2 separate regions of the Homo sapiens genome follow, and region 1 is linked to region 2. The links come from fine-mapping of genetic effects on gene expression. Tissue or cell type: whole blood. Region 2 holds a variant in brackets; the other region holds the start of a gene. All regions are shown on one strand. Distances are from middle to middle.

Evidence for each region. PIP is the estimated chance that this variant, and not a neighbour inherited with it, causes the effect.
Region 1: it holds the start of USP40, and the variant in region 2 is fine-mapped to the expression of USP40 in whole blood (TOPMed, PIP 0.96).

Annotation. Positions count from the first base shown.
Region 1 is chr2:233,563,592-233,569,292 of GRCh38, forward strand. It overlaps USP40 (ubiquitin specific peptidase 40), which reads right to left and starts at 3,191. Exons shown (of 32, transcript NM_001365479.2): 1 at 3,093-3,191; 2 at 1,765-1,982. The coding sequence starts at 1,963.
Region 2 is chr2:233,467,490-233,473,917 of GRCh38, forward strand. It overlaps DGKD (diacylglycerol kinase delta), which reads left to right. Exons shown (of 30, transcript NM_152879.3): 29 at 934-1,064; 30 at 1,882-4,609. The coding sequence ends at 1,971. Among named protein-coding and RNA genes, the nearest start is that of USP40, 96 kb to the right of the region's middle. RefSeq lists a silencer at 430-645 and an enhancer at 6,368-6,428. The variant A/G (reference allele first, on the strand shown) is at 3,988.

The DNA of each region.
Region 1 (5,701 bases), 96 kb after region 2:
TACAAAAACTTTTATAATAATCTCCCAGTACTCTCAGCTACATTGTAATGGAGTACAATGGAACCCAATGTAGCCCTATTATTTAAAATACTATTCCAAAATTTCCCCCGCCAGTTCTCTGACAGTCCTTATTCTTTCCAAATTATACCTCCCTGTCAGTCACCATCAGGATTCAGGCTAAGCTATACAAGCAGTGCACATTGTGCACTAAGATGTCAAATCATATGCTTGGCCAGCAATCCCCTCTGCTGGAGAGGAAGTTGGCCTGGGACTCTCAGTACTACTCTTGCCTAATGGTACGCTCCATGACCCGCCCTACACTTCACCATCTTCCTCAGTCCCTTTGAGGCTACGTTTCTACTTCGAGTTGTCCTTTAACTTCAACTATATTAAAACCTGGAAAAGTGTTATCCCTATTAGAAATGTACTTATTAGTGCTGGCAATTTTTACTGGTGGAATTACTGATTGCATCAGGGAGATATTTTTATGGAGGGGATCGAGTCAAGGCTAAGAGGTACCACTTAAATCCCACATGCAATCCAACCCATTAAATTGCTCCTAGGAAGGTAACAGCGGTAAATATTTACTAAATCTCTGGAGGCAGCAAGTCTTTCTAAGCTTAGAAGCAACAGAAGAACCACAAAGATTTGATAAATGTGGTGGCAGTAGGGAAGAGGAACATGGCAAACCAGATAGGATGAGTCAGGCTGTCTGTCCTCCTAATATGGAGACACTGTGGAGAGCTGAGCTACAAAGCCATGTAGTGCTGGGGACCCCAGTCAGGGCCAGGTGAAGGCAAAGTAATGTTCACACTGAGCTCACGGGAACACAGCTCCTAGGACCCTTGTGGAGGAAGCTGGTTTGCAGAGATGGGGTATGGGAGAAATATATAGAGAGAAACAGGGGCAAGAAATCAAGGGTCCAGTAAGGTCAGGCTGGCTTCCTGCAGTTGATTTCTGAGATCCCCTATATTCTTACAATAACCCCCCTTTTAAATTTAGCTAATTTGGGTGGTGGGTCTGTTTCTTGCACACAATCCCTTACCTAAAATCTCTGGGTCTTTGGAATTCAGAATTTCCAGAGTTTATAAAGATAATATGAAAAAAGTGTTTTTTATATATATATAAAATGTTACATTCCCAGCAGGGTCTGGGCCAGCTTCCATTAATCAAGCAGATTAATATTCCTGTAATGAATGTATGAACATTCACCCACATGAGATAACTAAAAACTGTAAATAGCCTCACACCAGGTCTGGTTCTGAAGCCAAACAAGCTCAGGTGAGATCAGATGAGGGTGTGAGCTTTCCAGATTTCAGAAATGCGTATGAACAACTGTGCACCCATATAAATAATATGACACCCTTCCCCACTCCAAAAGGTAGATATAATTGGTTGGATAACTCTGGCTTAAGTGTTTGTTATTCTAGAGAAATCTTAAAACTCAAACAGTGTAACAATAATGAAGACTGATACTTATGACAATTGTCTTTACGTTGTACTTTAAATTACAGGAATTAAAAAAGAAATATATTGCTTTATTTTTTTACTAAACATTATTGTCATCACCCAGGATATATTTAAGATTAAGCTTCACATTTCTCTGCAGAGGGAATTACCAATTTATATCTTATATGTGCAACAATAAACACATACTGTAGAATATATCTTTAAGATAATTGGTCTATTTGTGATTTTGCATAATTAATTACATGTAAAGAAGATGGTACATATTGCTAGTTAAATGTACGTAACATAGCATACCTCTGAATTCAGGTGTGAAATGAAGAGTCTGAAGAAGGGAATTGAGGTAACAGGTTCCACCCTGATTTCTGATTCCGCTTAAATTGGTGAATTCTCTAGGAGCAGGTGGCTCCAAAGCTTTAGTCTTTAATTTCTTCCCTTTTCCATACTGATTATTAGACACAGTGGAATACTCCTCTTCAAACAGGTCCCCAAACATTGTGAAACTAAATACTACCCTTAAAAAAAGTGACATATAAATGCTTTTATTTTTAAAATAAATTTTCCCCAAATCCCCCTACCTTACACTTGGGAGTCGATTCTGTTGTTTCTTAGAACACAGGACTACTGTTTCTATGTACAGTAGTTGGGTTTTGGAGGCAGCAAGATCTAGATTTTTTTCATCCCTATCAGGACCCTAACTACCTGTGTGACCCTGGATATGTTAATCTGTTTTCTTATGTGTAAAATAGGATACCATCTGTCTCTTCGGGTCATTTAAACTATCCAATGACATAACGAAAGAAGGGCAGTTAGTGTACAGGGTTTGGCCCACAATAAGTAACAGCTGTTTTTAAAAAGGCACGTTCACATCACTAATTTTTTTAAAAAAGAAAACCTGTTGCCACAACTAATCCACTGCTGGGACGGCAAAGCCAACCCTAAATTCTGAGAATCAACTCTCTAAAATCTCTGCTTGTCACACCCTTCAGTACTATATACCAGATTATGACATTTAAATTAAACAGATCAAGTTAACTTTTTTTAGAGCACTTTAGTACAGTCCCGAAGCTGTTGGGCCGGAAGTCAGTTCACTGGGGAGGGAGGGGGGAAGGGGAGCGGAGGGCGGGGAAGACTGCCACTAAAATTATCAAGCCTAAAGGCCTTCCAGTATGTATCCACTAATCCCATCGTTAGCCCTGGGGGCCTAGGTGACTTCCCCAAGGTTTCACATCGAGTGTGGCGGAGGGTCACTTGGAGATGAGAAACGTAAAGCGCCTAGCATAGGTACCAAATGACAGGAAGCGCTGAAATGCAATTATTTTTCTTTTCCTCAGAAGAAAACTAAAAAAACACAACTCGAGAGTCTAGCCTCGAGCTCGTTGTCTGCATTCCTGAATTCCCAACTCCTACGGCCGGCCGAGGCCCTCCAAGCCACCACAGGCCCAGGGGCGCAAAAAGGCAGAGGTCCCCGTGGCCCGAAACCACTGCCCCGACTCCAGGAGAGCGCCGCGTCCTCAGGCAGGCCTGGGCAGCCTCTCGCCTCGCCCTCCTCAGACTGGGCCACCAACACTGTCCCTACGCTTCCCACGTCCCTCCCAGGATCCCCGGGCGCCAGCCGCACTTACTGCCTAAAGCCCAGACCCCCGCCCTGGCCAAAACGCGAAGCGAACGAACCCGCCCCAACTGGGCGCCGCCATGTTGGCGAGGGCGGGTCTCCAGAAAGTGATTTATGGATCGTGGACTATGCTTCCCAGGATGCCCCGCTGGAGCGCCGGCCCCTCGCACGGGGCCTTATGGGAAATGTAACTCTTCTGCTCCAAGAGTTTGGGAACTGGAGCGGGAGCGGGAGCGGGCAAGGTGAGCTCGCTTACAAGTCCGCTGGTGAGTTCGCGGGTCCACTCGGCCAGCGGACCACTCATTCGTTCACATTTATAAGATTATAGCTATATGATCTTATATAAGATTATAGCTATATGATCTTATATAAGATTATAGCTATATGATCTTATATAAGATTATAGCTATATGATCCTTATATAAGATTATAGCTATATGATCTTATATAAGATTATAGCTATATGATCTTATATAAGATTATAGCTATATGATCTTATATAAGATTATAGCTATATGATCTTATATAAGATTATAGCTATATGATCTTATATAAGATTATAGCTATATGATCTTATATAAGAGTATAGCTATATGATCTTATATAAGAGTATAGCTATATGATCTTATATAAGAGTATAGCTATATTATAGCTATATAACCTTATATAAGATTATAGCTATATAACCTTATATAAGATTATAGCTATATAACCTTATATAAGATTATAGCTATATAACCTTATATAAGATTATAGCTATATAACCTTATATAAGATTATAGCTATATAACCTTATATAAGATTATAGCTATATAACCTTATATAAGATTATAGCTATATAACCTTATATAAGATTATAGCTATATAACCTTATATAAGATTATAGCTATATAACCTTATATAAGATTATAGCTATATAACCTTATATAAGATTATAGCTATATAACCTTATATAAGATTATAGCTATATAACCTTATATAAGATTATAGCTATATAACCTTATATAAGATTATAGCTATATAACCTTATATAAGATTATAGTTATATAACCTTATATAAGATTATAGTTATATAACCTTATATAAGATTATAGTTATATAACCTTATATAAGATTAGTTATATAACCTTATATAAGATTATAGTTATATAACCTTATATAAGATTATAGTTATATAACCTTATATAAGATTATAGTTATATAACCTTATATAAGATTATAGTTATATAACCTTATATAAGATTATAGTTATATAACCTTATATAAGATTATAGTTATATAACCTTATATAAGATTATAGTTATATAACCTTATATAAGATTATAGTTATATAACCTTATATAAGATTATAGTTATATAACCTTATATAAGATTATAGTTATATAACCTTATATAAGATTATAGTTATATAACCTTATATAAGATTATAGTTATATAACCTTATATAAGATTATAGTTATATAACCTTATATAAGATTATAGTTATATAACCTTATATAAGATTATAGTTATATAACCTTATATAAGATTATAGTTATATAACCTTATATAAGATTATAGTTATATAACCTTATATAAGATTATAGTTATATAACCTTATATAAGATTATAGTTATATAACCTTATATAAGATTATAGTTATATAACCTTATATAAGATTATAGTTATATAACCTTATATAAGATTATAGTTATATAACCTTATATAAGATTATAGTTATATAACCTTATATAAGATTATAGTTATATAACCTTATATAAGATTATAGTTATATAACCTTATATAAGATTATAGTTATATAACCTTATATAAGATTATAGTTATATAATCTTATAAATATGAATGAATGAGTGGTCACATTTATAAAGATATAAGATTATATTTATATAATCTTATATCTTTGTCTTTCGTCTGTGAATCAAACTAATGGCATGTCAAAGTATTGTCTGGACAATCCTTTCATTCCATAGCTTCCTCTCCTCCTATCAGATCCCCATGAAATCTCACCTGCATTAGGATGATAGCCTTTTCAGTGGACTCCCGTTTTACACACCCCTTCCTGCACGTCACTATAAGATGCACTATCCATCTAAGGTGCACTTTGAGCTCAAACCTCTCTGCTAAAGAAGCTTCCACGATTTCTCAACATCCACTGTGGAAATTCTTTATTTTGATTCTTAGTTCGCTGATGGTCCCAACATTCTTTTCATACTGTATTTCTCACTACACACCTATTTACCAAAGTGCTTTCAAATGTGCCATCTATAAAGCTGCTAATCCCTGAGCCTTTAAGGGAAAAGATAAACACCAGCTGCAAGTCTTTTTGTTTTATGATAAAAAGCCCTGTACAACGAAAACACTTTTTCTGGTTTGGTTCCATGAAAACCAATGCTCTGTCCCTGAAGTCAGGAAGTACCTTGCCAGTAAGGGACTTCCTTTTAAATTGCTTTTGATATTGGACAATGTCCCTGGCCACCCAGAACCCCATAGATTCTGCAATGAGAGCACCAAAGTGGCCTCCTTGCCCCTAAACACAACATGTCTAATTCAGCCCTTAGATCAAGGGGTCATAAGGAACTTTAAGGCTCATTACGTACGGTTTTCTATGGAAAGGGGTGT
Region 2 (6,428 bases):
ACAAGACAAACTTGGAGACACAAAGCTCTGGACTCAGGCCGTGCTGGGGCATGCCCTGCCTGCTCCCTCCTGGGCTGCTGGTTCCTGATAAATTGATGCATTGGTCGAGGTTCCTGTGCTGGGAAGCCCAGGCCACCAGAGATTGTGGGTGATGAAATCAATCGAATATGGTCCTGAAGGACATTGTTCCTTTGGGTCAGTAAATTGGAGCTAAACTCTCTGTCTGAAGGATCAGCCCTGAATACCCAGGCCATATCCAGTGCTGTCAGGGGCTGGAGAGGCCTCCAAGCCTGGATATTGGGACTGGTGTTTGCCGCCAGTCAGGGCAGCTCCTGTGGGTTTTTCTTCTTTGCATGTTTGTCCAGAAATGGGGTTTCTGTTAATAATGGTGGCTCTGACTATGTGAATTGAAATCTCTGCTCGTTTCCTTTCCTGCTATGGTCCAGAAGTGAAATTTAACCCTTCTAGAAGCTGGAGGAAAAGCTGGCTTTGGCCACAATCATGAGGACATTTCCCTCATATTTGGTGGTGGTAAATCCCTCCTGGGACACGGGGAAATGACCAGAGGCTGGCGGCCCACCTGGCAGGAACAGATGCCAGCTCTGCTGCAGCCATCGCCCCTTGAGCGGGTGGCTCTGTGCCTCTTTCTGCACTGCTGGTGGGTGGTGCTGTTGGCTGGGTGATGGATACCGGCTGCCAGAGATGGCTCAGGTGCCAGCTGCTGGGCTATCTCAGGCACTGGCTGCTGGGCTATCTCGGGTGCCGGCTGCTGGGCTATCTCAGGCGCTGGCTGCTGCTGGGCTGTCTCGGGTGCTGGCTGTTGGGACGTCTCCTGTCCTGGCACTGGGCTCTCGGGTGCTGGGTGCCAGCTGCTGCCTACCTTGCACTGGGCTCTGGGCACTCACTGCACTCGTGCTTTTCCATCTCCGACAGTTCACCTCTGGGGGACAGAGGAGGTTGCTGCCTGGCTGGAGCACCTCAGTCTCTGTGAGTATAAGGACATCTTCACACGGCACGACATCCGGGGCTCTGAGCTCCTGCACCTGGAGCGGAGGGACCTCAAGGTACTTCCATAGGCGTCTCCCTGGAACCTGCACTTGGGCTTGCACGCAGCTCCCTTCTCTTCCATCCTCTCCCCCGACCTGGCCATGTCCCAGCATCACGATTCTTCTCAGGCTTTCGTGTATACCTCAGGTGGGGGCGGCTGTGGCCCTCATCTAGGCAGTGATGGCTCCACCCACCACAACCAGAGGAAGCCAGGAGCAGACATAATGGGGGGCAGAGCCTTGGTTATCTTAGGCTACTCAGACAAGGACTGTCTTCGTGTTAAAAACACTATGAGGGGACACAGACCCTGAAGCACAGTCACACACGACTGTCCCCATGCTGCTCCTGGGCGGGTGCTGCCACTCGTCTGCAGGGAGCATTGGGAGGGGTGGTTGGGTGCCAGGCCTCGGTCTATGCCAGGCCTCACGCCACATCTTGCAGGCCCATGCCCCTGCCCAGGTTGGCCTCAACGGGCCAACCCCTGGGTGTTGAATCACTGGCTGAGTCCCGAGAGGGCAAAAGGCCACTGTGGGTGTCCTGGACAGTGGCTCTCATGAGGTCACTTGTCATCCACTTGCTTTTAGGCCTGTGTTTTGTCTTTGTCTTGGATTTGTCCTTGCTGATGGTAGTGACTAGAATGCAGGAACAATGGGCCAGGCATCTGTATGGTTGTTACTTTTAAGCTGTTTCCATCTTGTTTTACCGTTTTTGTCATTTTGGCTCTCATTTGTGTTCACAAGCCGAATGGGAAGGGCCGTTGTGGCAGGCCTGCTGTGGAGCCCTCTGGCCCTGGCTGTCTTCTCGGCATCCATGGCGGTGTCTTCTCTGTTGCAGGACCTGGGCGTGACCAAGGTGGGCCACATGAAGAGGATCCTGTGTGGCATCAAGGAGCTGAGCCGCAGCGCCCCCGCCGTCGAGGCCTAGCCTCTGTCCTCTCAGCCTGTGGCCTCCACATCCCCGCCGCCGAGGCCTAGCCTCCGCCCTCTCAGCCTGTGGCCTCTGCGCCTCCTGCCACTGAGGCCCTGGGCAGATGCTGCAGCCCGCCCCCTTCTCATGGTGCTACTTCCTCTGTCAGCTACAGAAAGCCTCCGTGACACCGTCCACCAGAGCTCTGGGGTCTCGAACATAACAACACAGCTACCTTTGAAACAACACTTTCTCCAGCTCAGAGTCACCTGGGGCACATGTGTCACGGCCACTCAGCTCTCGCCCGCCTGTGCTGTGGGCCAGGGAATCCAGCGGCGTCTGGCCTCCTGGGCACTGCTTGCCTGGCCTCGTGCTTGGATTGTCCCGGGGGCTCCTCTCCGTGTGTCCTTCTGTGGCCGCACCGTGTGGCTCCGCCTCCTGGCCCCCAGCCAGTTCTCAGAAACGTGGCTGGGGCCCAGCACAGCAGCCTGCAAGGGCCCCTGTTTGTTGATGCAGCTTTTGTTGAACAAAAATCGTGCTCTTTCCTGGTTTGAAAGTAGCATGGATGTTTCCAGTCTTGTTGATTGTAATTTGACGTGAAGAGAAAAAAAAATTCCTCCTGCGTGAGCCAAGGCAGCGGGTGCTGTTTCCCAGGCGGGGAGCCCCTCCCTGGGTGTCACAGGGCCTGTGCTCCTCCCTCCTCCATCCTCTCTCCTCCCGCTCCTCCCTCCCCCCACTGTGGGCTGGGGACGCCTGCCCTTCTGTCTCCGGACGCTCTAGGCGAGTTCAGCTTGGGGTGTGAGTGAGACAGCTTGCCAGCTGCATCCCTGCAGACAGAGGATGTGTGTCCACATGAGTGTTTCTGTGTGGGAAATGCTTCCTGGCTCTGGGAAACTTTTTCTGCCCATTCTGTGGTTCCCAGGGAGCGTGGCCCTGGTGGGCCAGGGGTGGTTTGACCTCTTCAGCCCGTCCGGTGGCCTGGAGGCCGGAGGCTCTCCTGAGTGTCTGCCCCTGCAGTGGCTTCTTGTCGCCTGCTGCTGGGCGTGATGTCGCTGGAGGTGCTGGCAGGGACTCTGATTTGGTGGTCCGCGCTGCCCCTGCCCTGCCTCTGTCCTGGCTCTGAACTAGTAGATGATGGTGCCAGAGGGCAGGGAGCTCGCCTGGGGAGAGGGCTGTGCCCCGTAGGGACAGTGCCCAGGTGAAGGATGCCCCTGGTCCTCCAGGGCACTGACTTTGCCCTTTTTTCCCGTTGATAGTCATGGCTCAGAGGTGCTTGTAAATGTCTTGGGAAGAGGTTTCTGTAACCCCTGCCCTGGTGTGAGGAGGAAATGGCTCTGGCCTGGCTGCCTGGCCGTGGCTTCTCTTTGGCTCCCAAAGAGAAGGACAGTGTTGGGAGTATCTGCCGTGGCTTCTCTTTGGCTCCCAAAGAGAAGGACAGTGTTGGGAGTATCTGCCGGCGCTGTCCAGGTCCTTTAGTCAGCGTCACTCCATCTGATGTGCAGAAGCTGGGCTGCACCTGCGGGGGTGGGCATAGACCGGGCTGGGTCTGCAGCAGCCCCTGGTCCTGAGCAGGCGGCAGTGAACAGCACTGGCCCACCTCCCACTCACAGCCCCTCTGTCCCCTCTGCAGTGCACCCAGGTGGGCCCCTCTGCGTGCCTTTGGGTGCTCCCCTCTCGTGGTCGTTCTGGCCCGAGGCCCTTAGAGTATGGAGGCTGAGCCAGGCCTTGGGTTTCCCCAGCACAGCCTCCTGTCGCTGCATGCGACGTGTTGGGATTTTTGGATGAAAGACTCTCCCACGCTCTGTTGGTGGACTTAGCTGCCTCACTGGAAGTGATGTGGGTGGAAGGTGGTTGTATGTTACCTTTTCCACCTCTCATTGTTTTCCCCAGAACATTGTAGATGGGGGTTGGCAGAGGGAGAAATAAGCCAGCCACGGCAGTCGCTTGGTTTCCCAGGTGGAATGGGCTAACACAGGAGATGATGGGAACCTGTCCCGCAGTCCCTGCATGACCATTGGCCCTGCTGGCCTGGCG[A/G]TGTGGGCATCCTGGGGTTCTTAGGGTCCCAGAACAAGCCCCAGGCAAGCTGGAACTTGGGTGGGGAGGGGACATGAGGAGGATAAACAGCTGACTGTGGCTTCAAGGACATCAGGGCCACCCCAAGTCCTCAGTGTCCTACTCCTGGCAAGGAGTTGGGTTTGGATCAAAAGTGTTTAAAATTAATATGTTGTCAGTGATTAGAACAACACTGTTTACATAAAAACCATTTTTCTAATTCTAACAAGTTAGAATGTGAGGAAGGAATGAACATGAGTGTTTAGGAACCTGCCCTTTGGTGCTGGGCTGGCGTCCCGCACTGGGGTGTCCTCGCTGTCTGGGGGCTGCTCTGCTGCCCCGGCCCAGGTCCCCTTGTGGTGTTGCCAGACGGGCCTCATGGTCTGCTGTGCAGAGAGAGGCAGGAAGGATCCCTGAAGAGTCTTGGAGAAAAGGTTCTGTGCCCTCAGGTGGGGCTTACCCCCTCGTATTTATAATCTTAATTTATATAGTGACCACCGTGGAAACAAACGCCTCTTGTATTGTCATGTACATAGTCCATACCTGAGTGCTGTACATAAGTTGTTCTGTGTATAAATAAAACAAGCCTGTTTTTGATCTTCCATCGCCAGAGTCTTTGTCATCATTCCTTGTGCTTTGACATAAAGTGTTGGTTGCCGGAATCTTTCCAAACTGGATTCAGAATTGTTTTTCACCTGCTCTGAAAATAGGTTGAGTTGTTGGTGGCTAAAAAGCAAAACAGAATGCCATTAGCATGCCATCAGAATGCCGTTAGAATGCCATTAGAATGCTGTTGTATTTTTTAGGGTGTGGGTTCTGTGATCAGTTGGACTAAAAATTCCGCAAGGAGAGAGAGGGTACTGGGCAGTGCTGAGGCTCTCAGGTGTGACCACACAGCCTTGGCCCGGGAGAATGAGGGCCATTTTAACGAATATTTTAACCCTCTTAAATCTTTTCTATAAAACTGCAAACCTGAAGCTCTCCGACTTCTCTGCTTTGTCTTGGTACTTTTATTTCCAAGGGAACTGTCTACGATCAAGGCCACTTGAATTGTCTTCCCCAGTTTCCTGGAGTGAGGGATGGGGACTGCATTCATGGAAGACACCATCAGGCTGGTCGGGTACAGAAGGGCTGCATGTGCTCCGGGAGTGTTGGCTGCCTCCCTAGCAGCTCTTCCTCACTCCTTCCATGGTAACAAACCCCCCCGTTTTTTTTTTTCTGGTGTATATTCTCCTCTCTGGCCATTCAGGACTTCAGGCCTCATGGTTGCAAGATGGCCACCACAGCTCCAGGCATCACACCAGTGTAAGGTGTTTGGGGACAAATGGCTGCCTCTTTTATGTGTCACCTGCTCTTTTTGTTGTTGTTGTTGAAGATGAGGTCTTGCTCTGTCTTCTGGTCTGGAGTACTGTGGCATAATCGTAGATCACTGCAGCCTCCAAATCCTGGACTCAAGTGATCCTCCCACCTCAGCCTCCCTTGTAGCGGAGAGTACAGGTGCATGACAACATACCCAGCTAGTTTGTAAAATTTTTTGTAGAGACTGGGTCTCGCTTGCTTCCTAGGCTGGTTTTGAACTCCTGGCGTTAAGCGATCCTATGTGTGTCTCTTTTTAAGATAAAGGGAGCCCTTTCCGAAGCTCTGGCTTCAGCCGACCTCCTCTAATGTCTTGGCTAGAACTGCCTCACGCACTCATGACTAAACCAATCAGTGCGAAGGGTACGAGCTATTACGGTGATCGGGATGCTGACGGCTGACACTTTATAATTTGTGCCAGGTGTTGGTCTAAGTACCTTGAATGTACGAACTCCTCTAATTCCCCTCACAGCCTTACATGGTGGGTTATCTGCATTTTACAGGCGAGGGACAGGCTCAGAGAGGCGACACAACTTGCCCCATGAGGCACAGCCAGCGCGTGGCTGACATGGGAGGCAGAGGGCATATCTTTTCGACAGCCGTGCTCTCCCGTGTCCCAAGCCTCATAGCAAGCCCAGCCCACAAGACAGGTGAGGAAATTGGGCCCAAGTGACAGGCATGCTTTCCAGCACAGCAGCCGGGGCGCCTCACGTGCTGGGGGCACCAGATGCCCGGGCAGGGGCAGACCTGGGGGGAGGCTGGTGTGCGCTTTGCCAGCCTCACTCCTGTGCCCGCGTGGCTCATCTCACACGGGGCATGGCTCCATTGTGTGGGAAAGCAGTGAGGAGGGGGCTTCTCACAGAGACAGCATCTGACAGCGTGGGGAGGCCGGGCAGCGATCTAGAGTGGACGGGGCTGCAAGTGTAGCATGATCGCGAGACGGGACAGTAGAGTTGAGTGGAGAAAATGCAGCAGGGTCTATACTGTTTTTAAACTGATCCTCTTCAGAATTCCCCAACCACTTAGAAAAACAAACTGGGTGCTTGGTCCAGTAATGTTAACTGAAC